Regions from separate parts of the Homo sapiens genome. Here regions 1, 2, 3, 4, 6 and 7 are each linked to region 5. Evidence: fine-mapped expression QTL. Tissue or cell type: whole blood. Region 5 holds a variant in brackets; each other region holds the start of a gene. Each region is shown on its reference strand, or each on the opposite one. Region 1 holds the start of CDC42EP2 (CDC42 effector protein 2). Region 2 holds the start of ABI1 (abl interactor 1). Region 3 holds the start of STN1 (STN1 subunit of CST complex). Region 4 holds the start of BCORL1 (BCL6 corepressor like 1). Region 5 overlaps IKZF1 (IKAROS family zinc finger 1). Region 6 holds the start of KISS1R (KISS1 receptor). Region 7 holds the start of NLRP6 (NLR family pyrin domain containing 6).

Region 1 (4,074 bases), not on the chromosome of region 5:
TACAAGCTCCGCCTCCCAGGTTCATGCCATTCTCCTGCCTCAGCCTCCTGAGTAGCTGGGACTACAGGCGCCCGAGTAGCTGGGACTGCAGGTGCCTGCCACCATGCTCGGCTAATTTTTTTTTTTTTTTGTATTTTTAGTAGAGACGGGATTTCACCATATTAGCCAGGATGGTCTCGATCTCCTGACCTCGTGATCCACCTGCCTTGACCTCCCAAAGTGCTGGGATTACAGGCATGAGCCACGGCGCCCAGCCCTCATTGGCAATTTTCATTTCCATTTCTCATGTAACAAAACATATTCATAGATTACACAGGTTCGGATGTGGGCTTTTTTTCTTTTCTTTTTTTTTTTTTACATGGGTTTTTGCTCTATTGCCCAGGCTGGAGTGCAGTGGCGTGATCACAGCTCACTGCAGCCTTAACCTCCCAGGTTCAAGCAATTCTCCTACCTAAGCCTCCAGAGTACCTGGGACTACAGGCTTGAGCCACCATGTCCGGCTAATTTATTTGTTGTAGAAACAGGGTCTCACTATGTTGCTCAGGCTGGTGTCAGTGTCAAACTCCTGGACCCAAGCAATCCTCCCACCTTGGCCTCCCAAAGTGCTGGGATTATAGGCATGAGCCACAGCACCTGGCTAGATGTGAACATATTTAGGGGGGCTGTTATTTTACCTACCATGATCCCCTTCTTCCCATCCGGACCTCCCAGCTTGTCTGGCATCTTCCCCCACCCCCAGCATCCTGCCTCCCCCACTGAGGTCTTCCCGGCTCTGCCTCCCTAAAAGCCCTTCCCACACTGACAGCATTGAAGCCAACCATCCTGGTCACACTGAGCTGGCATAGCTGTCATCCTCTAGAAAGTGAGGTCTGTCCACCCCGTCACTACCCACCACTTCCTCTGCCCCACTCTTCTTAGCACTTACCCACCTGGAAGGGTATCATGATGTACCTGGGAACTTGGATTTCCCCCATTTCCCTTCTCTGGGCTGCAGGTCCCAATCCAGAGGCTGAATCCCCAGGGACAAGAACAGCGCTAGGCACTTGGTAGATACTCAACAAATCTCTCTTGAGTCACTGAGAGGTGCAGTTTCCTTCAGTCTGTCTCCAGCACCCTGTGCGGTGCCTGCCCTTCAAAACATGTTTCTGGGCCGGGCGCGGTGGCTCACGCCTGTAATTGCAGCACTTCGGGAGGCCGAGGCGGGCAGATCACTTGAGGTCGGGAATTCGAGACCAGCCTGGCCAACATGGAGAAACTCCGTCTCTACTAAGAATACAAAAATTAGCCAGGTGTGCTGGCACATGCCTGTAATCCCAGCTACTCGGGAGGCTGAGGCAGGAGAATCTCTTGAACCCAGGAGACGGAGGTTGCGGTGAGCAGTCTGGGCAACAAGAGCGAAACTCTGTCTCAAAAAAAAAAAAAGTTTCTGGCCCTGTAGGAATGACTGACTGACTGACTGAAAGAATGAATGGACCAGGAACTAGTCTGAATATGAGCCCCACCTTCACTCTGGAAGCCTGACAGCAAAGACGGGGGTCCAGGCCACGCGGCCTCTGCCTTCCCATACTGTCTTTTCTAGTGGGAGGTAAACTGATCAACTAGCTTGTAAGTTTGTAGTATTCTAACGTAGGCGCTTCCAAGGAAGTCGCTGAATATACTTGTGCCGGCGCTTCCCCGACGCAGCCCTGCAGGGAAGGATCCGGTCCAAGGTCTCTCTGCGATTTCTGAAGAATTCGGTCTTCCCGGAGCCTCTCCCCCGGCTCTTCTAGAACCGAAGGTTTTAGTTCCCATGGGCACAGCCGGAGGCCGCCTGCGCCACCCGGCCCTCAGCCGCCAGAACCAGGACAGGACTCCAGGGCGCGCGCGACCGCTGGACCCGGGAGCGGCACCTCCCACGCCGGGAGCCCCGGGCGGTGCCCGGAGTGGGGCGGGGCCTGGGCGGGGATGGGGAGGGGCTTGGCTGGCGCGGCCCCGGCATTGGCTCCGCGGGCCGGGGCGGGGCTGCGGGGTCCGCGGTGCACTCTGTAAGTTCACCGCCGGTCGGGTCCGGCCGCCGCGCTGTCCAGCTCCTGAGACCTTGCTGTCCGCCGGTCTGCCGTCTGCGCGCCTCACGGTGAGTTCGGGCTGGGATTTTCGCAGCTTCGCGGGGGTCCCCCGAGAGGCCCATCTCTGTGGCGCCCCGCCCCAGCTCGCGCCCTGGCTCTGCCTCTCACCTCACTCAGTTCCTTTCGAGGGCTCCTAGGGCTCCATGGGGCTTCCCACCCGCATCTGGGTTCCCGCAGCCTCGCCCGTGCCCGCCACGGTCCGTGGGGGCGCAACGCATCCCGACCCCGAATTCCCCGTTCTGCCCTCCATTTTGTGTCCGGGCCCCCGCCCCCCTCCCGAGACCCAGGGGTGCCCCGCCGCCCAGCATCCCCACCGGGGCTGGGGGCCGTATTTTTAGCCGATAGTGAGTTGTTCTCCTATCTTTAGCTGCGGCCGCGAATGTCCTGAAACGGATCCGGGCTGGGCTGGGCTCCGCCCGGGTAGGAGTGGGGAGGGGTCGGCGCAGGAACCCGAGCCGGAGCTAAGGAGCCGGACCCGTGGGAGGGGCGGGGGCCCGCACGCCCGAGCTCTGGCCCTGTGCCGAGCGGACACTAGGACATCGCCCAGGCCGGAAAGCACAGGGGGGAGGCTCCTCCCAGAGCTTGGAGACTAGGGCAGGGTCCCCAATCGCCCCCTTTTTCCCCGATTGTGGGACCAGAAACCCCGAAGCAAAAAGATCTCGCAGGTAATCCCCATCTGGTACTTGAACGCGCAGCTCCTTGGGGACCGCCTGCCTGGAGCCCGGGGGAGGGGCGCTGGAGACCCCGGTGCGCTCTCGGAGTCCTCCGGGACACGAGGCGATCAAGGGAGCACGCGCGCCACCTGGCGGCCGCGGAGCCGGGCACCTCTCCGGAGGCACCGGGACCCCGGGAGACCCAGCGGCCGCTAGAGGGTCTCTGCATCCTCGAGGTCTAGGAGGGCGGGAGGAGGTGGACGCCTGGGGTCAGGAGCCCTTCGTTTTTGCTATTGTTCAAAGCACTGGCCCCGGAGAATCGAAGTGCTTGAGGAAGGAAGGCCTTGTAGATATTTGCTGAATGAATGATAAAACCTACAGTGACCCGCTGAACCCCGCTATTGTACATTGGCGCTCTCACCTGCAATATTGCAGTGGGATCTCCAGTGGCCCTTTAGTGGTGGCTTCGTTGTCAGCCCATTTTATAGATGGGAAAGGTGAGACCCAGAGAGGAGAGGCGTCTTGCTGAAGGTTACTGAGGAAGTCCCAGGTGGAGCTGGATTTAAGGACAGTCTCCTGATTTAGGAGAAGAGGGGGTGTGAGGTGGCCTAATATTCTTCATGATAGGAGGATCCCTGCCTGCCGGAAGTCATTTTCTCATTGGGAGGTCCAGGGCTCCTGTCCAGGGCAATCACAGAGAGCTAGGATGCTCCTATCTGCTCCCCGACTGCTGCAGGGAGCTCCCCTCCCAGCTCCCCACAGCCCTGTCCTGATGGAGACCTCATTCTCATATCTCTGGACACATGAAAGTTGGGCAGACGGGGGCAGCCAAAGGTCAGGATGTAGATGGAGGAGATCTGGGGACCCACTGTTCCCAGCCTAGCTGTGAGCCCCTTTCTCTCCCGCTCCCCAAACATATTATGGAAGTAGGCGTGGCCCACTGCATGGGAACCACGTGGACCAGGCTGGGTACCCACTCTTCCACTTCCTAACTGGATGACGTCGCCAATGTTACTTAACATCTCTGAGGTTCAGCTTCGACTTCTGTAAAGGGCCGTAATGACCCCACCATGCCGTGACTGGGAGCTTTAAGATGAGAAACTGTGCGTGGCAAGCTGGATCCTAGGGTCTTGCAGTTGCCAAATCTAAATTCCTGGGGCGTGAGGGTTGTAATTCCCAGCTCTCCCCTGGGCCGCTGATGCTGGCCTCACCCTCGATTCTCCCCACATCTGGAATTGGGTGTGTACATCTGGCTGTGAGTGAGACAGCTGTCAGGGACGCCCAATTTGTTGTGGAAACACTCAGGCTGTCTTGGC
Region 2 (4,074 bases), not on the chromosome of region 5:
AGCATCTCCCTCTAAAAATAAAGAGGGGAAGCATTTGCCAACACAGAAACATCGGTTCTTAAAAATTATAATCACATGGGAGACATTTCTATAAACAATTTAGTTCTGAATTGCAATAACCCTAACCTTTCAAAGCACGTTTTGGCCTTGCCTTACCAAAAGCAAGAGCATTCCTGGTGCCTTTATATTTATACAAAGGACTGTGCTACTTTGTTTCTAGCGCAAACTGTTGGTTTACACAGTTAAAGATCTTCAAAACAAACTACCACACACAATTCACTTCCAATCATCCAAAGAGAAACGAACAAACAAGCATCTGTCACAAAGTCCCAAGAGTTTTCTAATTTACAATAACAGATATTTTTACGTTGTAGTTCAGAGGCTACCTCTGTTCGTTTCTGTATTTGGATTCACATACTATACATTTACTTAGCTTGTTAAGAGAGAAACCTCAGAAAATAAGCAACCGGCGATGACACCAGTCTATTTTAAGTTACTTATGAAGCCTACAGCTCAAGAACTTTTGGGAGAAGGGAGGGTAAGCCGTTTTTCCAAGGAGTTAAGAACAATTCGTGTTTGATAATTAATGATAGCAGCCCTAACAACCTCTTAGAATACATTATGGTGGGGCGGAAGTGAAAACGATGAGAGGGGGAAAAAAATAAAAAAAACCCGACTTGAAAATGGACAAGCAGACAGATTTACAAACCTTCAATTAAAGGAATTTTAAGATGAACTTCTCTCAAACGCCCTCCCTCACTCCCCACACCCGCTTCCTCCTCTCCTCCGGGAGGTCGGTGTAATGTGACTCATGACAAATTTTTTTTAAATAAATAAATAAATAAAAGACACACCCTCTGGGGGCTGAAACTGACATAATCGCCCCCACCCCACCCTCCGCCGACACACAACACACACCCCGCTGGTCCTCTCCCTTCTGCGGCTTCAGCCTCGTCCCTGCCCTCTCCTCTCCCCTCTCCCGTCCTGGACCTCCTCTCCCGGCGCAGAGAGGCGGCGCGGCGGCAGCTCGGGGGTATTCCGGGACTCCAGCCCTGCGGACTGGAGGCTACCTGGGGGGCGCGCGACCCCGGTGGCCGGGCCCTGGGGGAAGCGGACGCGAGGGGGGCGCCGGGCTGCGGCAGCGGCGGGCTCCCGGCTCCCTCGCCCATTTTCTCTCTCCCCTTCTATCGGTTTCCACCACCACAGCCACTTCCTGTATCGCAGCCCGACTCCCTCAGCCCGGCCACTCGCTCTGTCCCCGGTTGGGGCTGGGGTTGGGGCTGCGGTAGGGGCTCGGGTTGGTGGCAGCCGCTGAGGTCAGGGCAGTTCCCCACCCCGCCCAGTGGGCTGGTCACTCCGGCGGGTCCTCGACCCGGCCAGCGCCCGCCGGCCGCCAGAGCGCCTCACCTGTATGTAGTTGTTTTCACAGTAGTCTGCCACCCGAGTCAGGTTCTGGTAACTCTCGATCAGCGCCCTCTTGCCAGACGGGATCTCCTCCTCTAGTAACATCTGCAGCTCTGCCATTTTCCACCCCTCTGCATCGCTTCCTCTCGCGTTAAAGAGACAGAGGCAGCAAGGTCCGCCGAGGCTCCGAGCACCTCACAGCCCGGATACAAACCGCCTACCCGCCCTCCCGCCTGGTATTGTGGGACGGCACCTCCTCCCCTTCCTCCTCACTCTCTCCAGCCCCCCTCCACCCCCTTCGTGCAGCCGCCTGAACCTCGTTCTCTCGCGAGCGTTTATTTCTCCCACCCCCACGGACCGCGGGATTTTTTTTTTCTTTCGCACTGTCTTCTGGGAATTGTAGTCTCTCCTAGGCTAGGCGGCCCGTCCAAAGCGCATGCGCCCAGACACCTCCGAAAACCAACGCGGCAGAGCGCAGAAAGCGGAGACCGAGGGTGGAGGGAGGGGGCGGTGTTGGGGGGAAGTCCGGAGTTTCCTCACAGCTCCGGAAGGTGGCGCCACAGGGTGATACTGGGGGAATGAAATCGGTTCCCCAAGTTTCATGTGAAACTTGGCAGAACTTGGTTAATTAGGAAATGTCAGTGAATCAAGGACACCCATTCAGAGAAGGATTAAAAAGGGGACAGAGTACGGAAAACTAGATTTTTACTTCCTCTGCCTTCTTAGAAATAAAGCGAGTCAGGCTTTACTTTCTGAAGTTCCGCCCCCATCAATTCATTTAAAATTTAGCAAACATTTCTTGATTGCCAGCTGTTTACCAAGCAGCGTACTAGACACTGGGGGTACAAGTTGAGTACGAATACTCCGTACCCTTAAAGACTCAATTATAAAATAAACATACATAGCTTGTAGTGCTTTCCTGTCCTAATTTCTCTTTTCTCTGACTCTCCTTATCATGTAATCTTCCTACACTTTTAAGGTCATGTGCACGTTTTTTTAGGGGTGGGAGTTGTTTGCTTGTTTGAGACAGGATCTCACTGTTACCCAGCCTGGAGTACAGGGGCACAATCATGGGTCTCTGCAGCCTAGACCTCCTAAAGTCAAGCGATCCTCCTGCCTCAGCCTCCAGAGTAACTGGGACTACAAGCGTCGGTCACTACACCTGGCTGAGCTTTTTAATTTTTTATAGCGACAGGGATCAAATTATGTTGCCCTCGCTCGTCTCGAACCCCTGGCCTCAAGCAATCCTTCTGCCTCAACCTCCCAAACTGCTAGGATTACAATCATGAGCCACCCACCCTGATCCTTCGTTTTTTGCTCCTGGATTTTTGTTTTGTTTTGTTTTTATCACCTGCTTTGGAATAGTCTCAAAAGGCCCTATATTTCAAGCTCTTCACTTCAACAGGAACATTAAATGCTTCGGATATAATCAGCTATGAAAAGTGTTGTCCAAAGACTTTGGACATATGTTCATGTATCTCCATAAAGTCATTTAGAATCAAAATAACTAGGAGTAAAAACATCACTCAACCAAATTAAAAATTGCCAGCACCAGGTATTTATTGAATATTGCCTTTACTGGGGCCTTATTCAGGGCCCCAGGGAACCAGTTTCCCTCTTCGACCTCTGAAAGGAAAAACTCAGTTTCCTACTAAAAACGTTAACTTCCCCTTGCCACCAGATTCTCCATCAAGGAATCTATCAAAAGATAACTATTATACCTATTCCAGATATTATGGAAAGTAATACATTTATTATCTGGAATAGGTGTAATAGTTATCTTTTGATATTTATCGTTAACCCAAACACGACTTAATCCAAGTTATTAAAATTTAATGTATTATTGATCTTGGTCTCTACTTGAGGTTTAACTGTAGAAATCACTCAGTTTGTATATATTCAAATATTGACACATTTCAACAACATTGGGGAAGTGATTAGGGAGGTGATACTAATTTACTATTTTCAACGTACTGTCCATGCAGTTGAGCAATGAATGAATAATAATGATGATGATGATAAATACAAATAAAAAGTACTGTCAGATTTCTTCTCACAACTCTGAGAGACAGATAATATAAATATTATTTTCCTTCCTTATCAAATAAGGAAATTTAAGCTTAGATAGGTTAAGGAGTTTAGCTAAGGGCACTGAAAATGCCGTCAAGTTTCCTAGGTTACTGATTGATATGGTTTGGATCTGCATCCCTGCCAAATCTCATGTTGAATTGTAATCCCTAATGTTGGAGTTGGGACCTGGGGGAAGCGGGAGTGGATCATGGAGCAGATTTCTCACGAATGGTTATGCAGCATCCTGTTGGAACTCTCCTTATGATCTCGAGTGAGTTCTCCTGAGATCTGGTCATTTAAAAGTGTATGACAGCCCAGTGCAGTGGCTTGTGCCTGTAATCCCAGCACTTTGGGAGACCAAGGTGGGAGAATCCACTTGACTCCCAAAATGGGAGACCAACATGACGAACTACTCCCGCTTGAGTTCCAGACCACCCCGAGCAACATGGCAAAAACCCGTCTCTACAAAAAACACGAAAAATTAGCCAGGTGTGGTAGTGAGCACCTGTAGACTCAGCTACTTGGGAGGCTGAAGTAGGAGGATTGCTTGAGCCTGGAAGGCACAGATTGCAGTGAGCCAAGATCACAGCACTGCACTCT
Region 3 (4,070 bases), not on the chromosome of region 5:
ATGTGACAGGATGTGGGGCTCAGGCAGTAATGCTCACTGGCCAACCACTCACTTCCTGCTGTGTGGCCCAGTTCCTAATGGCCATGTACCAGTAGTGGTCTGTGGTCCCAGGGGTTGGGGGCCCCAGGTCTAAAAGTATCCAATCTGTCAGCTGATGTCTGCTTTAACCGTGAGGTTTCATTTTTAAAACACCTTGGAAACATTCTCACCAGTGATAAATCAAAGATCACTGGTCCTGTTTTTGTTGGTTTGTTTTTAACACATCATAAAGTCTTTTGCCTACAGGTAGAGTTAAGCCCCTGTCATGTCCTTGGTACCTGTTTTCTCACCTGCAGAAGATCATTAAGCAAGGCTAGAATTTGGTGTGAATTAATTTCTTCCTGAAGAGATGAGCTATGAAGAAAACCAGACTGGAAAATGGAAAACTGTGGAGGAGGTTGGCTGCCTTCCAAGGGAAAACACAGACCATTTCCAACAATAATTAGGAAATAAAGGTGTGGCGAAAAATCTGTACAAAAGGCATTAGCATAAGGTCATCCAAATATATTTGTACATTTAACTGGAAACAAACAAAACCTTATCTCATTAAAACTGTGGATGCTTGAGATTCTTGACTACTTCTAACTCATAGTTTGTTATTCAGAAGGACCTTGACTGGAAAGCTTCACTCAAAATAGCAAAGAAAGTTTAACCAAACTTCTCAAATAGCACAGTAAACATGTGGCTATTTGTGAATTATTACACAGCTACGTGAATTATTTAAATCCACCCCAAACTATACTTGTTATATTTTTAGGTAAGATAAGCCTATCTCTAGTAGCCACTATTCTAATACAAAAAAAAAAAAAGAAAATTTAAACTTTACATGTATAATGCCTTGTTGCTTCAACTGCTATTTCTATTTGAGGGCCCACTATATGCCAGGCACTGTTCTAAGCCCTGGGATTACAAAGGTGAACAAGACAGATGATGTTCTTCCTCTCAGGGAGTTTATAATATTTTGATTCTGCTTAATTCAAAAGAAAACAAACCCCCTTTACATATCAGGAATCAAAAGATTCCATTACACAGGGTTAAGCTCCATTTTTACAAAGAAACCCAGACTTTGCAGAAGGTGAGTCACATGCCCGGACCAGGTAAGTGGCACATTTAGGAAAGGAGCCAGGCCTAGGAATATCTGGCCCAGCGATCTCTCCAACAGGAGCAGGGCCAAAGAAAAACAAATGAGCATTTTTAAGCATGAAAGACCCTAAATGGAGGTAAAAACCCCAGTACAAAAGTTACTCCCCCAAACACCTACTAAAAAAAAAAAAAAAAAAAAAAAGATTTAGACTGTTTTTTTTACCTTGCAAATAAATGAACTCATGCGAAGGTCCAGGCTAGGTCCCTTTCAAAGCCTGCAGCAGGGAAGGCTCTCCTAAAAGCCTCTAATCCCAGCTTTCTGAGACTTTGGGAAAGGGTGGCAGATGCAGCCCAGGGCATCCCAGGGTGGCTAGCCACATACCTGGCACCTGGCGGGACTCCTTCATGTCCAGGATATCCCTGATGTAGAGTTTTGCAAAGGCTAGAAACACAGGATCCAAACCCCACAAGAGGGAAGGGGTCTCCTCTTCACACCGGCTGGATCCAGGCTGCATCAAGAGGCAGGGCTGTGGCTTCCAGCTAACTCTGAAAGGTTCTGCATCACTGAGTCAAGCATCTAGATGGGACACAGAAATGAGGATGCAATGCGTTTAACGTGGGTCAAAGTGGCACGGCCCTGACGCTGCTCCCAGGTGGGCGTCCAGGACTCCAGGAGGGGTGAACGCAGGGATCCAGGGCCCTGTCAAACTCCATGCCACGGGGCGTGTTAAGAGGCGTTCCTCACGTCAGGACGCCTGCGTTCCTTACGGCTCTCCCGCTGTTCTCCTTCCCACAAAGCACCAACTTCGGAACGGCTAAACATCAACTTTCACTCTGGGAAGATACGTCTGTACAGGCGTAGCAGAAACCGCTTGGGGTCCCGGGAGGAACGGGCGCCCTCGCAGCCCTGCACGTGTTGGGGCATAGTGGATGGGTCTGACTGTCGCTCTGCCCTAAACTTTCCGCTTTTGGGGATGAGCCAAGAAAAGGAGGAAAAAAGATACTAAAAAATGGACCCACTTGTAGCCCCTCCCGCCGCCTGCAGCTCCAGGAGCCCTGAGACCTGGCCCTTCCGGCGCTCGGAGCCGCTGGCGGCGACGACCCCGCCCGGCGCAGGAGCAGTTGGCTGAGGTCGTCTCTGGAGTTCCGGCCTGAGCCCGCCCCCTGCCCCGCCAGGGACCAACCCCGGTCTCCCCGCCAGCGCATTTCCTTTCTGCTGCAGCGCCTCGCCACGGCTCCGCCCCATCTCTCCCGAAGTCCCGCCTCATCCCACCCAGACCCCACCCATCCCGCCGCGGCCACGCCCCATCCTGCCCGAAGCCCCGCCCCATCCCGCCCGAAGCCCCGCCCCATCCCGCCGCGGCCCAACCATCCGCTAGGCCCCATCCAGCCGAAGTCCAGCCCGTTCCGTGCCCCGCCTCAGCGCAGCGTACTTTTGGTTCAGGCAGCGCTGCAGCCCCGCCTTCGTGCTAGCCTCCACCGCTGAGGCCTAGGAGGCGACCTTGAAATTCCTGCAGTTCTAACGCCGCTCTTCTAGTCACCTTTCACCCCTCCTCCTGCTGGTGGCGGGACCCTGAACCTGGGCCTCCTAGAGGTTGGGTCAGGATCAGACTATTTTTCTTTTTGATTCCTGATATGTAAAACAGATAAAAAGTAAGCAGTGCCACGAGTGCATTGTGGCATATTTTAAATGTTCATTTACAGTTGGTAAGTGACCTGACTCACACACTTAGGACTCTAGTTTCACTTGGAGATGTCAATATCTAAATTTGAGCCCTCGAGTGAATGTGAGGTCTTGACTCTGCCAGAGACTAGCCGTGCAAAATCATGACAATACATTTTGTCTCCTTTACCCTTGTTCGGTCTACAGTCTGGAAGGTTGTACACTTAAGAACTTTGAAAAGCTGGCATTTTGGTAAATCATGGCCACCTTGATGGTGCTTAGTCTCCAGAATTTCTATTTTAAAGTGAGGAAAGATAGCCACGTTCCACTCCCATAAAGAGCTACGTTACCCGAGACGTCAGGAATTCTTCCTAATTTACAGAGACTCTGGAAAATGGCAGGGGAGTACAGATCACCCTGGCAGACCATTCCCGGGGGAGGCAGGTGGTGGCCAAAGAGATAATTGCTAAACTATTTATCAGAGAAGGAACTTGGAGCCGCTGGAATGGAAAGTGTGTGTGTCATTAGACCCATGGCATTTAATTACCTCCCCGGCCATTTAAGAAGCTCAAAAACAAGAGTCCTTGGTAAAATACATTGCCCAGATTCTACTGCAATGAACACTAGGAAATGTAGGGTTTAAGATTTAATTAAGAGAAGACACTGGCTGGGCGCGGTGGCTCACACCTGTAATCCCAACATTTTGTGAGGCCGAGGCGGGCAGATCACGAGGTCAGGAGTTCAAGACCAGGCAGGCCAATATACGGAAACCAACCCCCTCTCTACTAAAAATACAAAAATAGCCAAATGTGGTGGCGTGCGCCTGTAATCCCAGCTACTCGGGAGGCTGAGGCAGGAGAATCGCATGAACCTGGGAGACAGCGGTTGCAGTGAGCTGAGATCGGGCCATTGCACTCCAGCCTGGGTGACAGTGTGAGACTCTGCCTCAATTAAAAAAAAAAAAAAAAAAAGAGAGAGAGAGAAGATACCTTCTCTTATAGGAGGAAGGCCCTTGCAAAGAAAACACACCCAGTAGGACAGGTGCTTCCTGCTGACCTGTCAGATGGGGAGAGACAGGTTGAGTGACATTTTCCTGACTGTACACATCTGCTCCAGGGTGAAACCCAAAGGAGGAAATCACTACTAAGTGTCAGAGCCTGAGATGATTTCAGGAATAATGCTCATGGCGCTCAAGGGTAGAGTGTTGGATAAAAGAGCCCTCCTGGACTCCATGCTTACTGCCAGCCTTGGGAAGGACCACACCCAGGTGGTATAAGCAGAGCAG
Region 4 (4,074 bases), not on the chromosome of region 5:
GTGCGGCCCTGCGGCGGGGGCGGGGGGAGGATAAAGAAACTTGCTTCCCGCGGCCCCCACCCCGCGTGGGTTCCGATCTTGCGTGGAACGAGCCCGCGTGGCGAGTCGCGGCAACACTGCCGGGACCGAGGCCGGCACCTGGACCCGGACCCGGACCGCGCGCTTGGGCCGGCTCGGCGGGCGCAGGCAGCGGGCCAGGCCAGCACCCAGGCAAGGGCGGGGTGGGTGGCCGTACACCGGACCGAATCGGGGACTCCGGTGGCGTGGGCGCGGGCCGAACCCCGACCGGGCCGAGTTGGGTGGCGAAGTAGGACGTGGATTCGGGGGCGGGGCGCGGCGGGAGGGGGAAACCAGGCCTGGCCAGACTGGCCTGGGCGTGGGGGCGGGGGGCGAGTTCGGGGCACTTGCTGGGCTCTGGACCGAGCGGTAGGGCGGGGCGGCGCTAGGGGCTGGGCCGGACCCGCAGGGAGAGGGCGAGGGGAGGGAGAGCCGGGGGTGGAGTAGGGGCGTGGAGTTGTGAGCGGGGTCTGGCCTCGGCCGGGGGCGAAGGTAGATCGGCGGGGCCGCGAGCGGAGGGAGGGAGGCCCGCGGCGGCGCGGCGGCAGCGAAGGCCAGCTTCCGCGGAGTTTGTGCCCGGGCTTCCCGGGCTCTGGCCGCCTCACGCGCACAAATGGGGCTAGGGGACTGAGTGGTAAGCAACTCCGAGTGTTAGACGGTGATCGGGCGGCGATTCCGGGAAAAGCGAGGAAAGACACAGTCTGCGATTGTGCCGCACCCCCCACCCACCTCTTAGCATCTGGATTCTGCTCTCGTAGTGGGGGCCGCGGACCCTCCCCGCCACAGTCCTTTTACTCTCCAGCACTCCCACCGCCTTCCCCCTTCTTCAGCCATCTGACTCTCCTAGGGGTATGTGTTTTTGGGGGTGGACGGCGACGGGGGTGGGGGATACTTTCCTTCCCGTGGCGGCAACCTAGTTCGTATCTTATTCCTACAAGGTAGCGTCGCTTCGAGTCGCATGGACATTGGGGTTTAGATAATTTACCCCCCACCCAAGCGATTTAATGGCTTTTAAGCAAAAGGCGAATACCTGGATTTCCATGGGAGGGATGAGGTTTGAAGATTGGGATTCACCCCTAGCTCACTTCCACTACCAACCCCTCTTTCTTGTGAGCCACTTCCACGGGTATTCAAATCTGGGGGGGAGGGGGGACGGGAGTATTAATATGCTTCTCTATTTCTACACAGGGTCGGCGTGGCGAAGGACGGCTAGCCTTGGAGGGAAAGTAGCCACCAGTCCAACTCGGGTCGCCCCCACCATTATTTCGGTGAGGGGGCAACGCTAAGAAGGGGATACTGGTGGGTAGGGGCCCAGTATAAGGGAGGGGGCTGGGTAGTCGTCCCCAGAAGGACTCCGTGTCTTGGCGGGGAGAGAGAGAGGCGAGCCCCGGCTTCAGGGGAGGGGTTCCGGGGAGGGAGATGGGGGGGTGGCGACGACGGTGGGGGGGGGAGCGGGAAGAAGGGGGAGTCACGCCCTGCCTGCAAGGGGAGCCTCCCTCAGGCCCCTGGGAGAAGGGGACTGAATGCGTCTGTTCTCCGCTGCCCGGCAGAGGAGATCTGGGGTCTCGAGATTTGCACACTGGATCGGCACCAGTGGCCTGAGAAAGTCAGGTCGGGGCATAAGGTGGAGAACGTTGGAAGAAAGAGAGAGAACCCTTTGGCCGCGGCTCACTGACCCTCTCCCTTCCTCAACCTCCCCCTTCGAGGGGCGTCGAGGTGGGGGGGGACGTGGGGCTCCTGCAGCCCCGCAGATTGAGCGCCTCCGCCTCTCCCAGGAGTCTAGCTTTTTGCCCGGCTTGCTGCAGCCACTGCTGCCTCCCTCTCCGGAATCCGCTCGGTCCTCTCAGCGATCCCCTCCTCCTCTCCTCCCCTCCCAGTGTCACCGGGGCTGCTTGGCTCTGCCCCCTTCGCCGCCGCTTGCTCCCTGCTTTCGTCCCTCCCTCTCTTGCTCGCTCCCTCCCTTCGCCTCCTCCTCCCCATTCCCCCCCACCCGCGTAGGCCGCATTCTGGGAGTTGTAGTCCGGTGGAGCGGGGGTTGGCGCCGCCCGCGGACCCAGCCGGACTCCACTTCCCGTCGAGCCCTGCGACCGGCACCCACTCCACCAGGCTTCGCTCGCACACAGACACACACACACACCGCTCTCCCCCTCACTCTTTCGCTCGCCGCGGCTGCTGCCAGTGTGTGGCTCTGTCTCTCCTCCGCTTTGCTGAGCCCTCCCTTCTTCCTCTCAGTTCCTAGAGTCCGACCGCCGCCGCCGCCGAGAGAGAGGAGAAGGAGGTCGGTGGCGATAAGGGGCGGAGGGGGGCATCAGATCGGGGCAGTATTAGGCGGGTGGCGGTTAAGAGGGAGTAAGAGGGAGCCCGGGTGGCGGCCTGAGCCTCCCCGCGGAGCCGACCCGGGAACAGGTGCGTCTTTTTTCTCTCTCCCCCAATCCCTCCACCCCTTTTGACTCCCCGGCTTTTTCGTATCCCCCCACCCGCTTCTTTCTATCTTAAGCCTTTCTCCAACCCTGTTCCTTCTTTTCCCTGCGGCCGCTCGGCTTGCCCCCCGGGGGCGCCGTCCTCTTCGTGTCCCCGGACGTAGCGCTCCCTGGAGCTGGGTATGTCTTCGCCCCTCCCTTCGGGACAGCTCCCTTCCACTTCCCACCTTCGTACCCCATCCCCTGACTTGCCCTACCCCCTTCTCGACCCCCTTCTCTCTTAGCCAGGTGAGACTCGTTCGCCACGATCCAAGAGAGTCTTCTTCCCGGCTGGGCGGGGGTCTCCATGGAAACGGGGGTCGGTTGATCCTGGGGGGGAAACCATAGGAATTACCCCACTCCTCGGAAAGGGAGGTGGAGGCTATGGTCTTGTTAACTACCTGACTCCAACCCCCGATCCAAGGATCCGACGATCCGAAGGGAGGCTGGCTAGCAGGGCAGGGCGAGAAAAGGCTTTTTTTTGGGGGGGGGGGGTGTCCGTGATGAAGTGTTGAAGAGACCGGGAGAAAATGCCCTCCAACCTCAGAGGGGAGGTGCGACGGGTGCTCTTCAGGGCTGCTTTCTTCCCGGCGCTGGGGTGCGGGAATCGTAGGGTAAGGGGTACCCCTAGGTGGCGGCGGGGCCTGGGTTCGGGAGTGGGAGTGCTGTGATGGGGGCAGGGGCAATTATCCGAGTCCCTGGAAAAAAGGCGGGGGATGACTTCGGAGCGCCCTGGCTCCGCTGCCCTCGCTCTAGGGGCGGGGGCCGCCGGGCCGGGCGCGGCGGGGAGGGGGCTTAAATTGAAGGAAGATGAGATCGGGGGCAATTCATACTAGCACCGGCAAGCCAGAGGGGAGATCCGGCGTGCAAGCCCTCCACCCGCTTCGCGCCAGGCCTGGAGGCAAGGGGTCGGCGAGCGAAGCCGAGGGCTGGAAGGAGGGAGGCTCCGGTTACGGGGCCGGGTTTCGGGATCAGGGGCAATCCCCCGGCCCTTGGAGAAGGAGGGAGAGGGATGGCCGCGAACCCCAGGGCTCCCCCACCCCGGGTCCTAAGGGGCGTGAGGGACGGACAGCAGGCCCAGCGGAGCTGGATTCGAGCGGATCGCGGCCGGGGAGTGGGAGGGCTTAGTGGTGGGCTTCGGGGGGAGCAGTCCGGCGGCGGGGCGGGCGGGCGGGGCGTGGGGCTCCGGCGGGCGGCGGGGCGGGGCCGGGGGCGGCGCTGCTGCCGCCGCCGCTGCCGCCGCCGCCGCTGCTGCTCCTGCTGGGGCCGCCGCAGCCGTTGCCGCCGCCGCCGCCGCCGCTTCTGGGCGGGGAACGGAGGCCAAAGAGAGTCCCGTGCCGGGGCAGAGGGCGCAGGCGGCGCGCGGTGGGGAGGGGGCCGTCCTGGGGGCGGGGGCAGGCGGGGGGGTGGAGCCCCCGACGGGGGGCGGTACGAGCCGGGACGACGACGACGAGGAGCCCCGGGGGCCGGGTGCATGGAGGACGAGGTGCTGGGAGAAGGAAGGGGGGTGTGGGTCCCGCGACTGGCCTCGTGGGCTTGGCTCCTCGAGGTTCGGTTT
Region 5 (4,000 bases):
CCAAAGACGGAGAGAAGTTCAGTGAATTAACCAAGGTGAAATGACAGAGTCAGAATTGAACTGAATTTCTGACTGAAAAACTAGTTCTCGCTCCATTATACCATGTTCTAATGAGCTAATGAGTCAACAGTTCCCTGGAATACCTGTTTTCTTCTTTAAAAAGAGAAAGAGCTGTGATACTGAGAGCTACCTATTGGCATAAAAGAATATGAAGGACATACAGGTAAAATGAGGTAGACTGGATCAATGTGGGTCAGCTACATAAGCCCCCATAGCCAAGGAGGGAACATGTATGTAAAATTCTCAGGCTTATGAGAATCACAACTGTATGTCTATAGGACATCCTAATGCAATAATGGGAAAATGTGATAACTGAATTTTATCTACATGTATAGAAAACATATTTTGGGCCGGGCATGGTGGCTCAAGCTTGTAATCCCAGCACTTTGGGAGGCCGAGGCTGGCGGATCACAAGGTCAGGAAATCGAGACCATCCTGGCTAACACGGTGAAACCCTGTCTCTACTAAAAATACAAAAAATTAGCCGGGCGTAGTGGTGGGCGCCTGTAGTCCCAGCTACTCGGGAGGCTGAGGCAGGAGAATGGCGTGAACCCGGCAGGCGGAGCTTGCAGTGAGCCGAGATTGCGCCACTGCACTCCAGCCTGGATGACAGAGCCAGACTCCATCTCAAAAAAAAAAAAAAAAAAGAAAAAGTAAAGAAAACATATTTTGTATGTTTTTTATGTGTCTTAGAAACCAAGTGGACTAGGTATAATGGTTCTTTTTTTTTTTAACTCAGCAGCACAGTTAATGGCACAAACAGATAAAGATGGTGGCTAAAGCCATTTGGTGTAGATGAATCCAGAAAACAAGTACATTTATGAATTATTTTACCCTATTGGAAAATGGCTACTATATGTGGAAAGTAGAGGGGAAGAGAAATGAACTTGTGAATTATCTACTCTATTCTACCAAAGAAAGATACATATATCATTTCAGGGTTTTCCAAAGTTGGGATGCAAAGGATCATGTTTCATTTTAATTTATGTATTTATTTTTGAGATTGTCTTCTATGTATTGCAAGTGATACTGGTTTTACCATGCACTGTACCACTACGAGGGTTCCTTTCAAAACACATTCATATAAATTAAAAAATCAGTTTAAATAAAAACATCAAGTCAATAGTAGTACATAGATATGATAAAAGTTTGCAAAAGTGGCACAGGAATAGTCATTGGGTGGTGATGTTCCCTGATTTTTTTAGTCCCTGAAGCACCCAGCGCCAAGGGTACTGTTCTTCCTGCTTAACACAGGAGCAAACAGATGCTCACACCCTGCCCAAGAACACAGAGGCTCAGGGACTGAACCAGAAGAAATGATCCATTAACCATGTAAATGAACAGAGAGCCTGGATGTCAGAGTGAGGAGGCCAGCTCGGGTCGCTGTGGAGAAAGAGATGGGCTCTCCCTGGAATCCCTGCAGCTGCCCTTAGAGGCTGTGAGCCATCGTGGCTAGGGCATCTTTAGAGAACTGAAAGTCAGGCCGATTCCTGGAGAGTGAAGAATAGCACACGTGCCTTCAAAACAGTGTCAGTATCCTGTCCCTTACGGACGTCATATTGTTGGTGGGTTTTCCTGGGTGGGAGATCACCCAGTATCTGGTTGGCATTACTGATGGGTTCCCAGAGCTGTCTTTTGGTTCAAAGTCCTGCCCTCGGTCCCAGCTGCCCCCAGCACAGGTGTCACCTTGGAGTCAGGGGCGGGTTTGTCATAGCCCATGGGTCCTGGCCCTGCCCTTTATCATGTTTGACATGATTTTCAGTCTACTTTTCCTTCAGGATGTAATTTAGAAAATATGATTTCAGAATTGTGAAATTTAAAAACCCTAGAAAACCTCTTTGCTTTGCTTGTAAATAGCAGTTGATGCAGCCCTGTGGACAGGCGGGAACAGCCATGTGACGTGGGCACTGAGATGATTTGGGAGATTGAATGCTCCTCAGTGGGGCTAGAGGCCACAGGAGTGATAGGTTACTGTAAAGAAAGCAAAAAAGATGCAAAAGCCTACATGACAAACCAGGCACGACACAAAGGAGAGGCTTGAGAAGAGGAAGTGAAGGAGGGAGAGGATTCCACAAGACCGAAGTGCCCAAGGAGACATGGAGGGAAGAGAGGGCTCTTCACAGAGCTGAGTTTAGAGACCACCCTCCATGGTTCTGGAAGGAAACCAGCCAGCTTTCATATGTGGTGACAGGCTGTTCATTAATTTGTAGTGTA[C/T]AGCATTAAATAAATGAAGTATGTAGAGAACATTAGGAAACAATATAAAAAGGTAGGGGAATTCGTGGATAAAGGGAATAACCTGGGTACCATATTTCATCACATTATTCCATGGGAATAAGTCATCAGTGCAAAGGACTGTAAGGAGTGCACAGCAGGAAATGAAAAGACAGAAGCAGTGGGGCCGAGAGGAGGAAATGGAGTTGCTGAAATGCAGGGTGAGCAGCAGGGGCGGAGAGTGCCCTGTGGGTAAGGCACACCTCAGAAGGGACAGGTCCAGGCCCTCTCCTCCCTGGCCTGGAGCTTCTGGCAAGGCTTTTCTTCTCTGAGCCTCACTTTCCTCTTTTGAAGGTGGCAATAGTAACTGAACCTGCATCACAGAATGGCCTTGAGGGTTAGATGGAACATATATAGACATAATTTGTTGAAGACAGAGTAGCAAAGACACAAAGTAAAAAGGACAGAAAAAAGAAATGCAACTTGTGCAAAATAGAACTTTCAAAGATTTACAAGAAGGGTAAATGAAGCTATCGTAGCTTCACTTGGGAAAAGGGAGAGAACAGATGACCAGCACCAAGGATAGAAGAGGGATTTCTTACTTTAAAAAAAATGGTCCAAAGAATAAACAAACTGAAAACAGCCAAAAGAGAAAGGAAGAATTTGTTAGAATAGGGCAAGACTAAAGGACAGAGTAAGGGTGCTGGCCGCCACCTGACTCAAGTTCAAGTCGAGCTGCCACTGTTGAAATTTCAAGGAGAAATGGTGAGAAGCTAAAAGATGCAAAAAAAAAAAAAAAGTGGGAAATTATTTGCTAATAATAGATTGCAAGAGTGTCTGCTTTAGAAAGTGACAAGGAACACTTTTGGAAAGCTGTGAGCTGTTATGACCACTGGCATCCTTCAGTTTTAGACAAATCTAATCTCAACAAGGATAACAGACCATATTAATAAACAAATTGATGGGAATGGTGGAAATCAGTTCCCTATGAGGAGGGTGCAAAGTTATACTGATTGGTGAGTCACTCCCAGAATAAACAAATAATGGTTTCACACCTCATTGCTTCATTCAGTGTGGAAGGAACATTCTAGGTTTGTGTGTAAGTTTGGGGAGAAGGAGACAGAGCCAGAGGGCAGAGCAGCCCTGCAGCCCTCAGTTGGCCTCCATTTTCTTCCCGGTCTGAAGAAAATGAAACAAAGGATTTAAAGTGTTGCTTGAAGAATTTAAGTTAGACTTAAAGGAGAGATGTGGTCTTTACTCTCCTTTTGGCAAGGAGAGTTTAGTCATCAGAATGGTCTATTTAGTGAGACTGTAGCTTGTTCTTCTGAAGTGGTCTTTTTAAAAACTAGAGAACTCTCACCTCTCTGAAGTGGTTGTGTATGAAACTGTTTAAAGCCGAGGATGCACTCAGTGACCTCTTCAGGCAACCCCAGATTTACTCAGTCAGCCATGGCACACATGCTAGAGAAGTAAAAAAATGAATTGAGACTTGTTCTGAAAACTCTTGAGCAGGGGCTCTTAAAAGTTTTTTGTTTAGGAATTATGTCAGGGTTGGGGTCTGGAGAGCAGATAAGTGTTTTGTGTGAGAAAAGTAAAAACTTAGTTATTTTCTTCCCGTATTCAGTAATCCTTGCATTTTTTTCCTCCTCCTTTATACATACATTTTTGCCAGTTACTGACTTCTCTCTTGTACACATTTCCGTGTCCTAAATTAACCAAGAGTCCTCAG
Region 6 (4,074 bases), not on the chromosome of region 5:
TTGCAACCTCCACCTCCTGGGCTCAAGTGATTCTCCTGCCTCAGCCTCCCAAGTAGCTGGGATTACAGGCACCCTCCACCAAGCCCGGGTAATTTCTGTATTTTTAGTAGAGACCAGGTTTCACCACGTTGGCCAGGCTGGTCTGGAACTCCTGACCTCAAGTGATCCACCTGCCTCGGCCTCCCAATGTGCTGGGATTACAGGCATGAGCCACTGTGCCCGGCCTATTCATTTTTTTTCCTCCCTTTTTTGTCTTTTTTTATGCAAATGGAAGCACCTTTTTCTTCGCTGTGTATTACTCCATGATGACCAAATGTCTTGGACTCTGTTGCAGGATGGACTTTGGGGGAACCTCCTGGATGTCATCCTGGGGTACACTTCCAGCTGTGGGATTATGGAGTCAAGGTTGTGCTGACCAGGCTGGGTGGCTCATGCTTGTCATCCCAGCACTTTGGGAGGCTGAGGCAGGAGGACTGCTTGAGCTCAGGAGTTCAAGACAAGCCTGGGCAACCTAGTGAGATCTTGTCTCTACAAAAAAATTTAAGGGGGGAGGGGGGAGGGATAGCCTTAGGAGATATACCTAATGCTAAATGACGAGTTAATGGGTGCAGCACACCAGCATGGCACATGTATACATATGTAACTAACCTGCACATTGTGCACATGTACCCTAAAACTTAAAGTATAATAATAATAAAATAAAATAATAAATAAAATTAAAAAAAAAACTTTATTTGCAAAAAAATAAAAAATAAAAAATTTAAAAATAAATTAGCTGGACCGGGAGCAGTGGCTCACGCCTGTAATCCCAGCACGTTGGGAGGCCGAGGAGGGTGGATCACCTGAGGTCAGGAGTTCGAGACCAGCCTGGCCAACGTGGTGAAACCTGGTCTCTACTAAAAATACAAAAATTACCCGGGCATGGTGGCAGGCACCTGTAATCCCAGCTACTCGGGAGGCTGAGGCAGGAGAATTGCTTGAACCCGGGAGGCGGAGGTTGCTTTGAGCCGAGATCATGCCACTGCACTCCAGCCTAGGCAACAGAGCGACACCCTGTCTCAATAATGATAATAAAAGGCCGGGCGCGGTGGCTGACGCCTCTAATCCACCACTTTGGGAGGCCGAGGAGGGTGGATCACGAGGTCAGGAGATCAAGACCATCCTGGCTAACACGGTGAAACCCTGACTCTACTAAAAGTACAAAAAATTAGCCGGGCGAGGTGGCGGGCGCCTGTAGTCCCAGCTACTAGGGAGGCTGAGGCAGGAGAATGGCGTGAACCAGGGAGGCGGAGCTTGCAGTGAGCCGAGATGGAGCCACTGCACTCCAGCCTGGGCGACCTGAGCGAAACTCTGTCTCAAAAAAATAAATAAATACATAAATCAGTAATAATAATAATAATAATGAGGCTGTGGCGTTTGCAAGGTGCCCTCCACCTGGTTCCCGCTGCTAGTGTCCCTGCGGGTATCAGACACCCCTTGTCAGTCATGTGGGACACATTCAGTCCCAAACCACCAGATCGGGGACGTCCCTCACCTGCCCTGAACTTTCCATGGCTCTCCAGGGTCCTGGGGACAAACCCAAGCTATCCTCACTCAGGGTCTCCGCTGAGGGCTGGCCTCCCCGCCAGGCTGGGCCCACCCCCTGGAGCCCCAGCCCCTACGAGGGTCAAAGCCCTTCCCATATTCACAGGCCTTAGAGTTCGCGCCTTGGCTGGGCTCCTAGTCCGGGCTGAGCGTCTACTCGCTGGTTAAGGTCGGTCCTTCCAGGTCCACAGCGGCCTCCACGCGGCCCACCCCCTGCCTGCTCCGCCCCCTCCAGCCCCCTCCCGCGCTCTCACTCCGACCTTGCACCGGGAGGAGGGAATAGGGGGGTTGCCGCTGGGTGAATAGAGGGCGCGTGGGCAGGGGAGGGAGTGGCGAGCGGCTGCCGGAGAGGCGGGAAGGCAAGGCCAGGGGAGGGGGGCACGGGCTATAAACGCTCGGCCGCAGCGGCGCCGGCAGAGGAGCCGCCGAGCCCAGCACAGCTGCCCTCTGGACCCTGCGGACCCCAGCCGAGCCCCTTCCTGAGTTCCACAGGCGCAGCCCCCGGGCGGTCGGGCGGAGGGGTCCCCGGGGCGGTGCCAGGGCGCAATCCTGGAGGGCGGCCGGGAGGAGGAGGTGCGCGCGGCCATGCACACCGTGGCTACGTCCGGACCCAACGCGTCCTGGGGGGCACCGGCCAACGCCTCCGGCTGCCCGGGCTGTGGCGCCAACGCCTCGGACGGCCCAGTCCCTTCGCCGCGGGCCGTGGACGCCTGGCTCGTGCCGCTCTTCTTCGCGGCGCTGATGCTGCTGGGCCTGGTGGGGAACTCGCTGGTCATCTACGTCATCTGCCGCCACAAGCCGATGCGGACCGTGACCAACTTCTACATCGGTGAGTGCGGGCGCTGCGCCGCACCTGCTGCCGTCCCGGGGGCTCCGAGGGCCGAGCGGCCTGGGGCGCCCTCTCGCGACGCATCGGGGCCCTCTCGGACCCGGCTCTGTCCCCTGCAGGGGTCCCCCCCAACCTCGAATCTTTTCCCTGTGGTCCCTGCACCTGAGGCTAGAGGTCGCAAACTCCAGCGCGGGCGGGCCCGGGCGGGCCGGAGGGTGGGGAGTGTGGCACATGGAAACCTCGACCTGGCCACTCGCGGGGCTCGCCCCGGTGCAGCGCGGGCCAACGGCTCGGTGTCAGCTGAACAAAGGGCTGGGGGAGGGGCTGGCTTGGCCCGCGGGCCTTAGTTTGCGACCCCTGCCCCGGTGGCTCTCTGAGCCTGTTTATGCATTTGTGTCCTGGGGTCCCCTATCACACACAGCTGTGAGCCCAGTCGGTGGCTGCTGGGCCGGCACCATTGTCTCCAGTTTGCAGTTGTGGAAACTGAGGCTCAGAGGGTCAGGGGCCTGCTTAGGCTCCCCCAGCCCGGACAGGGCCCAGCAGAACCGATTTCTGCCGGAATGGCCAGGAAATCCGAGCCGGAGGCGTAATGTTTGAGATGTAAGGGGGAATTACTAGAAGGCGCCCCAACTTCTCCGCCCGAGGAGGCCAGGGGCGCTGGGGGAGGGGGGGGCCTCCCTGAGCCATCCTGCTGGTCACTCGGACCAAGGTGGGGGCCAGGGGTCAGGGCCAGGAGCGCTGGGCGGTTCCCGCGGCCAGTGGCGCCCACGCCCAGCGCCCGCGCATCCCCACCGCAGCCAACCTGGCGGCCACGGACGTGACCTTCCTCCTGTGCTGCGTCCCCTTCACGGCCCTGCTGTACCCGCTGCCCGGCTGGGTGCTGGGCGACTTCATGTGCAAGTTCGTCAACTACATCCAGCAGGTGCGCTCCGGAGCAGGAGGGGAGAGGGCGCACTTGGGGACGGGCGGGGGTGCGCTCCGCAGTGGGAGGGGAGGGGACGCACTTGGGGACAGGCGGGAGTGCGCTCCGCAGTGGGAGGGGAGGGGATCGTACGTGGGGACGGGGAGGGGGGGTGCGCTGCGGAGCAGGAGGGGAGGGAGCGCACGTGGGGACGGAGGGAGATGCACTCAGAAGCTGGAGGGGAGGGGGCGCATGGTGGGGCGGGGCAGGGGTGCACTCTGGAGCAGGAGGGGAGGAGGCGCACGTGGGGACGAGGAGAGGGGATGAGCTCCGGAGCGGGGGGCGGGCGCATGTGGGGAGGGGGAGCCCACGTGGGAAGGGAGGACGGACCTTGGGCGGGGCGCGAGGCAACGCATAGGAGAACCAGGGGCTGGGGTGCCCAGCTTGCGGGAAGGGGCTGGGCGGTGGTGCAGCCTAGAACTGGAGTGGGGGGCGGGAATGGGGGAGGGATGCAGACGGGGACCCGGGTCACTGGTGAGGAAGGGCTACTGAGGCCCTGAGGCTTCTTGCCCCGCCTGTCCCTCCATCCCACGCAGCCCCCCTGTCTCAGACTCGGGGTATCAGCCGCCCCCCAAGGGCTCCCTCACTTCCCCAATCCTCCTGCCCTCCTCTCCCAGTCTCCCCACCTTCTGTCCCCTCAACCCGCACTGGACACTCCTCCCAGGACACTTCCCGTGTATGTGCCTGAGTGTTCGCACAC
Region 7 (4,062 bases), not on the chromosome of region 5:
GTTTTTAACCATGAAGAGGTGTTGGAAAATGTAGACTATTCTTTCTGTCTCTATTGAGATGATCAAGCAGTTTTTGTCCTCTTAAGTATTACTATGATATGTTACATTAATTGATTTTTGGATGTTAAACCAACCTTGCACTCCTTAGAGAAAACACACTTAGTCATGGTTTGTAATTGTTTTTATATGCTAATAGATTCTGTTTCTGAAGTAGTTTGTTAAGGATTTTTCATGCCTGTATTCATGAAGGATATTGGTTTACAGTTTTCTTCTGATGAGTTTGCCTGGTTTTGGTATCAGTGTCACAGGCCTCAGAGAATGAGTTGGGAAGCATTCCCTTGAGAGCTTTTCTTTGTGGGAAAGTTTTTTTTCCCTGTAATTAGTAATTCAATCTCTTTACTTGTTATAATTTGTCTTAGTCTATTCTCACATTGCTGTAAAGACATACCTGAGACAGGGTAATTTATAAAGAAAAGAGGTTTAACTAGCTCCTGGTTCTGTGGGCTGTACAGACTTTTGCTTCTGGGGAGGCCTCAGGAAACTTACAATCATGGCAGAAAGCAAAGGGGAAGCAGGCAAATATTCATGTGGCCAAAAGGACAGAGAGAGCAAAGTGGGACATGCTACACACTTTCAAACAACCAGATCTCATGAGAACTTACTCACTATTACAAGAACAGCAAGGACGAAATCCACCTTCATGATCCAATCACCTGCCACCAGGTCTCTCCCCCAACATTGGGAATTACAATTCAACATGAGATTTGGGTGGGGACACACAGCCAAACTGTTATCAGAAAGAGGTCTTGATCCAGACATCATGGTTCTTGGATCTCATGCAAGAAAGAATTTGAGTCAAATCCATAAAGAGTAAAGTGCCAGGCATGGTCGCTCACACCAGTAATCCCAGCACTTTGGGAGGTCCAAGGCAGGCAGATCACAAGGTCAAGAGTTCAAGGCCAGCCTGACCAACATGGTGAAACCCCGTCTCTACTAAAAATACAAAAATTAGCCAGGCATGGTGGTGCATGCCTGTAATTCCAGCTACTCAGGAGGCTGAGGCAGGAGAATTGCTTGAACCCAGGAGGCGGAGTTTGAAGTGAGCCGAGATCGTGCCACTGCACTCCGCCTGGCGACAGAACGAGACTCCATGAAAAAAAAAAAAAAAAAAAAAAGAGTAAAGTGAGAGCAAGTTTATTGAGAAAGTAAAGGAATAAAAGAATGGCTATTCTATAGGCAGAGCAGCCCCAAAGGCTGCTGGTTGCCCATTTTTATGGTTATTTCTTGATTATATGCTAAACGAGGAGTGGATTATTCATGAGTTTTCCAGGAAAGTGGTGGGCAATTCTCAGAACTGAGGGTTCCTCCCCTTTTAGACCATATAGGGTAACTTCCTGACTTTGCCATGGCATTTATAAACTGTCATCGTGTTGGTGGGAGTGTCTTTTAGTGTGCTAATGTACTGTAACTAGAGTAATGAGCTGTGAGGATGACCAGAGGTCACTCTCATTGCCATCTTGGTTCTGGTGGTTTTGGGCCAGCTTCTTTACACCATTATCAGCAAGGCCTTTATGACCTGTATCTTGTGTCAACCTCCTGTCTCATCCTGTGACTTAGAATGTCTACCCTCCTGGGAATGCAGCCCAGTAGGTCTCAGCCTTATTTTACCCAGCACCTCTCATTTCCACATATTAACCCCCCCGTTCCACACACTCTCACATTTGGTCCCAGGGGTCTCGAACACCCCTGACGTCCAGCCTCTGCCCGCCAGCTGTTCAGGTCGGGTGGGGAGGCTGCAGTGCAGACCCCTGCCCGGCGTCTCCCTGGAGACTGCCTTCCCTCCCATATATGGTGCGTGCTGCTGGCTGTCCCCCCTGTTCCCTCTACCTGGAAGTCTTTCCTCACCCCTGCCTTCAGAGTCTAACCTCTCCCCAGGCCTCAGCTGAAGGCCTGGCTCTGAGCCAGCCACCTCCTTCACACAACCCACCTTGCTCTGAAGCTGCCTGCTCACAGCCATGCCCCGATGCCACACCCAGGGGTTCTTGGGGAACATTAATGGGATAAAGGAGTAAGAAAATCAAAGGTCACCAAACGGAGCCCTTAAAGGGCAATGCTCTGCGTGTGCCACGGTGCCCAACAGCATCTCGTGCCAGCTGAGCTGCGGTGTGTGGACCCGGGGAATGGACCGGGCTGGACAACCTCTAAGACTTGGCTCCAGCTCAGCCTGTGAAGGAATCACCTCTCTGATCCCCACCTCTGCCCCGGAGTGCTAGACCCAGGGAGGAAGAGACCCCATGGACCAGCCAGAGGCCCCCTGCTCCAGGTGAGTGCTGGCCCCAGGGTGGTCACTGGGAACCGGCTGGTCTCAGCCCTCTGGGGCCTCCACCTCACCCGCTGACTTCCTCAGGCTCTCCACCCTTGTCCACATCCTTCCCCCACCCTCACTCCCAGGCTCAGGAGCCAAGCACTGCCTCCCCACAGAGGGCATTTGTGGAGTCTGTTCCCCACCAGGGGCTCAGATTCAGGCCCTGGTGCAAGGCCCCAAGCTGGGCCCCACCAAAGTGTGGCAGGGGTGGGGGCCCAGGAATACAGCCTGGGCCTGGCAGTGTCTGCTGCCAAAGAGGCCAGTTCTGCTCCGGGATCGGGAAGAGAGGGAAAAGAAGGAAAGCGAGGAAAGAGAGCTCAGGGTTCCTTGGAAATACCTCCCTCGGGGCATGTGACCTGTCCTGGGGTGTGGAAGGACAGAAGCAGAAAGGGAGGTGCAGGGGAGGAAGGTGCCCCCCAGAGCTCAGATCAGCGGCGGCCAGTGCCCACTTCACCCTCAGAGGGCGAAGAACACCAAGACGCCCCGACCCGGGTCCGGGGACGGGGGAGGGAAAAGTCTGGGGTCACTCCCCGTTGCCCCCTCCCGCCACCCCATGGATCCAGACGATGCTTGGCCCGGGACTCCCTGAGGCCCTGCCCGCGGTGGGTTCTCCGGCGCCAGAGTCGGGGGCGGGCGGGGGTCACCCGAGGGCCGCTCCCCGATGACCCGCGCCCGCCCGCCTCCAGCACGGGGCCGCGCCTCGCGGTGGCCCGCGAGCTGCTCCTGGCTGCGCTGGAGGAACTGAGCCAAGAGCAGCTGAAGCGCTTCCGCCACAAGCTGCGCGACGTGGGCCCGGACGGACGCAGCATCCCGTGGGGGCGGCTGGAGCGCGCGGACGCCGTGGACCTCGCGGAGCAGCTGGCCCAGTTCTACGGCCCGGAGCCTGCCCTGGAGGTGGCCCGCAAGACCCTCAAGAGGGCGGACGCGCGCGACGTGGCGGCGCAGCTCCAGGAGCGGCGGCTGCAGCGTGAGTTCTGCGCGGGAGGTCCCTCCTGTCTGGGCAGAGGCTGGGCTGCCCTCCTTCCCGCTTCCCGGAGAAGCCCCGGCGCGGTCCCCGGCCCCCGCGCGTTTTATCCACAAATTCGCGGGCCCCAGGGGTAGGACCCTGCGTGCTCCTCAGGGTGACTCGGACCCCCGTGGCGCCTTCCCCTGTTCCCGCCCTCGGCGGAACCTCACCCCAGTTTCCCTTCCAGGGCTCGGGCTCGGCTCCGGGACGCTGCTCTCCGTGTCCGGTGGGTCTCTCGCTGGGGGGGCACGAGTGTCCCCAACCCCACTTGGAGGGTCCCGGGGAGGACCGGGGTGGGAGGGCCGCCAGGGGCGTGGGCTGTGGTCCCGTAGAGGAAACTGAGGCCTGAGCAGGGCCGGGGAGGGCGTGGGCTCCCGGAGGGCGCAGCCTGCCCCACCTCCGACCCTTGTCCCCGCGCTGTCTCCCGCTGCGCCCAGAGTACAAGAAGAAGTACCGGGAGCACGTGCTGCAGCTGCACGCTCGGGTGAAGGAGAGGAACGCCCGCTCCGTGAAGATCACCAAGCGCTTCACCAAGCTGCTCATCGCGCCCGAGAGCGCCGCCCCGGAGGAGGCGATGGGGCCCGCGGAAGAGCCTGAGCCGGGGCGCGCGCGGCGCTCGGACACGCACACTTTCAACCGCCTCTTCCGCCGCGACGAGGAGGGCCGGCGGCCGCTGACCGTGGTGCTGCAG

The links. PIP is the estimated chance that this variant, and not a neighbour inherited with it, causes the effect. A credible set is the group of variants that fine-mapping cannot tell apart.
Region 1: it holds the start of CDC42EP2, and the variant in region 5 is fine-mapped to the expression of CDC42EP2 in whole blood (TOPMed, PIP 0.94).
Region 2: it holds the start of ABI1, and the variant in region 5 is the best candidate, but not a certain one, in a credible set for the expression of ABI1 in whole blood (TOPMed, PIP 0.52).
Region 3: it holds the start of STN1, and the variant in region 5 is the best candidate, but not a certain one, in a credible set for the expression of STN1 in whole blood (TOPMed, PIP 0.76).
Region 4: BCORL1 starts here. The variant in region 5 is the best candidate, but not a certain one, in a credible set for the expression of BCORL1 in whole blood (TOPMed, PIP 0.51).
Region 6: it holds the start of KISS1R, and the variant in region 5 is the best candidate, but not a certain one, in a credible set for the expression of KISS1R in whole blood (TOPMed, PIP 0.58).
Region 7: it holds the start of NLRP6, and the variant in region 5 is the best candidate, but not a certain one, in a credible set for the expression of NLRP6 in whole blood (TOPMed, PIP 0.76).

Annotation. Positions count from the first base shown.
Region 1 is chr11:65,312,842-65,316,915 of GRCh38, forward strand. It overlaps CDC42EP2 (CDC42 effector protein 2), which reads left to right and starts at 2,025. Exons shown (of 2, transcript NM_006779.4): 1 at 2,025-2,113. It overlaps LOC105369344 (a long non-coding RNA gene), which reads right to left and starts at 1,848. Exons shown (of 3, transcript XR_007062727.1): 1 at 930-1,848. RefSeq lists silencers at 1,683-2,062, 2,523-2,652, 2,823-2,982.
Region 2 is chr10:26,859,340-26,863,413 of GRCh38, forward strand. ABI1 (abl interactor 1) reads right to left here and starts at 1,619. Exons shown (of 11, transcript NM_001012750.3): 1 at 1,408-1,619. The coding sequence starts at 1,524. RefSeq lists silencers at 992-1,141, 1,252-1,341 and an enhancer at 1,662-1,861.
Region 3 is chr10:103,915,958-103,920,027 of GRCh38, forward strand. STN1 (STN1 subunit of CST complex) reads right to left here and starts at 2,227. Exons shown (of 10, transcript NM_024928.5): 1 at 2,143-2,227; 2 at 1,505-1,699. The coding sequence starts at 1,637. RefSeq lists enhancers at 1,689-2,018, 1,878-2,523, 2,154-2,448 and a silencer at 2,189-2,538.
Region 4 is chrX:129,980,428-129,984,501 of GRCh38, forward strand. It overlaps BCORL1 (BCL6 corepressor like 1), which reads left to right and starts at 2,208. Exons shown (of 14, transcript NM_001379451.1): 1 at 2,208-2,335. RefSeq lists a silencer at 3,037-3,273.
Region 5 is chr7:50,328,384-50,332,383 of GRCh38, forward strand. The region is part of intron 3 of IKZF1 (IKAROS family zinc finger 1); the gene reads left to right. Among named protein-coding and RNA genes, the nearest start is that of IKZF1, 26 kb to the left of the region's middle. The variant C/T (reference allele first, on the strand shown) is at 2,275.
Region 6 is chr19:915,334-919,407 of GRCh38, forward strand. It overlaps KISS1R (KISS1 receptor), which reads left to right and starts at 2,000. Exons shown (of 5, transcript NM_032551.5): 1 at 2,000-2,413; 2 at 3,211-3,335. The coding sequence starts at 2,170. RefSeq lists silencers at 1,741-1,880, 1,891-1,980, 2,381-2,580 and an enhancer at 3,574-4,074.
Region 7 is chr11:276,276-280,337 of GRCh38, forward strand. NLRP6 (NLR family pyrin domain containing 6) reads left to right here and starts at 2,132. Exons shown (of 8, transcript NM_001276700.2): 1 at 2,132-2,323; 2 at 3,052-3,332; 3 at 3,559-3,597; 4 at 3,809-4,062. The coding sequence starts at 2,295. RefSeq lists an enhancer at 3,432-3,982.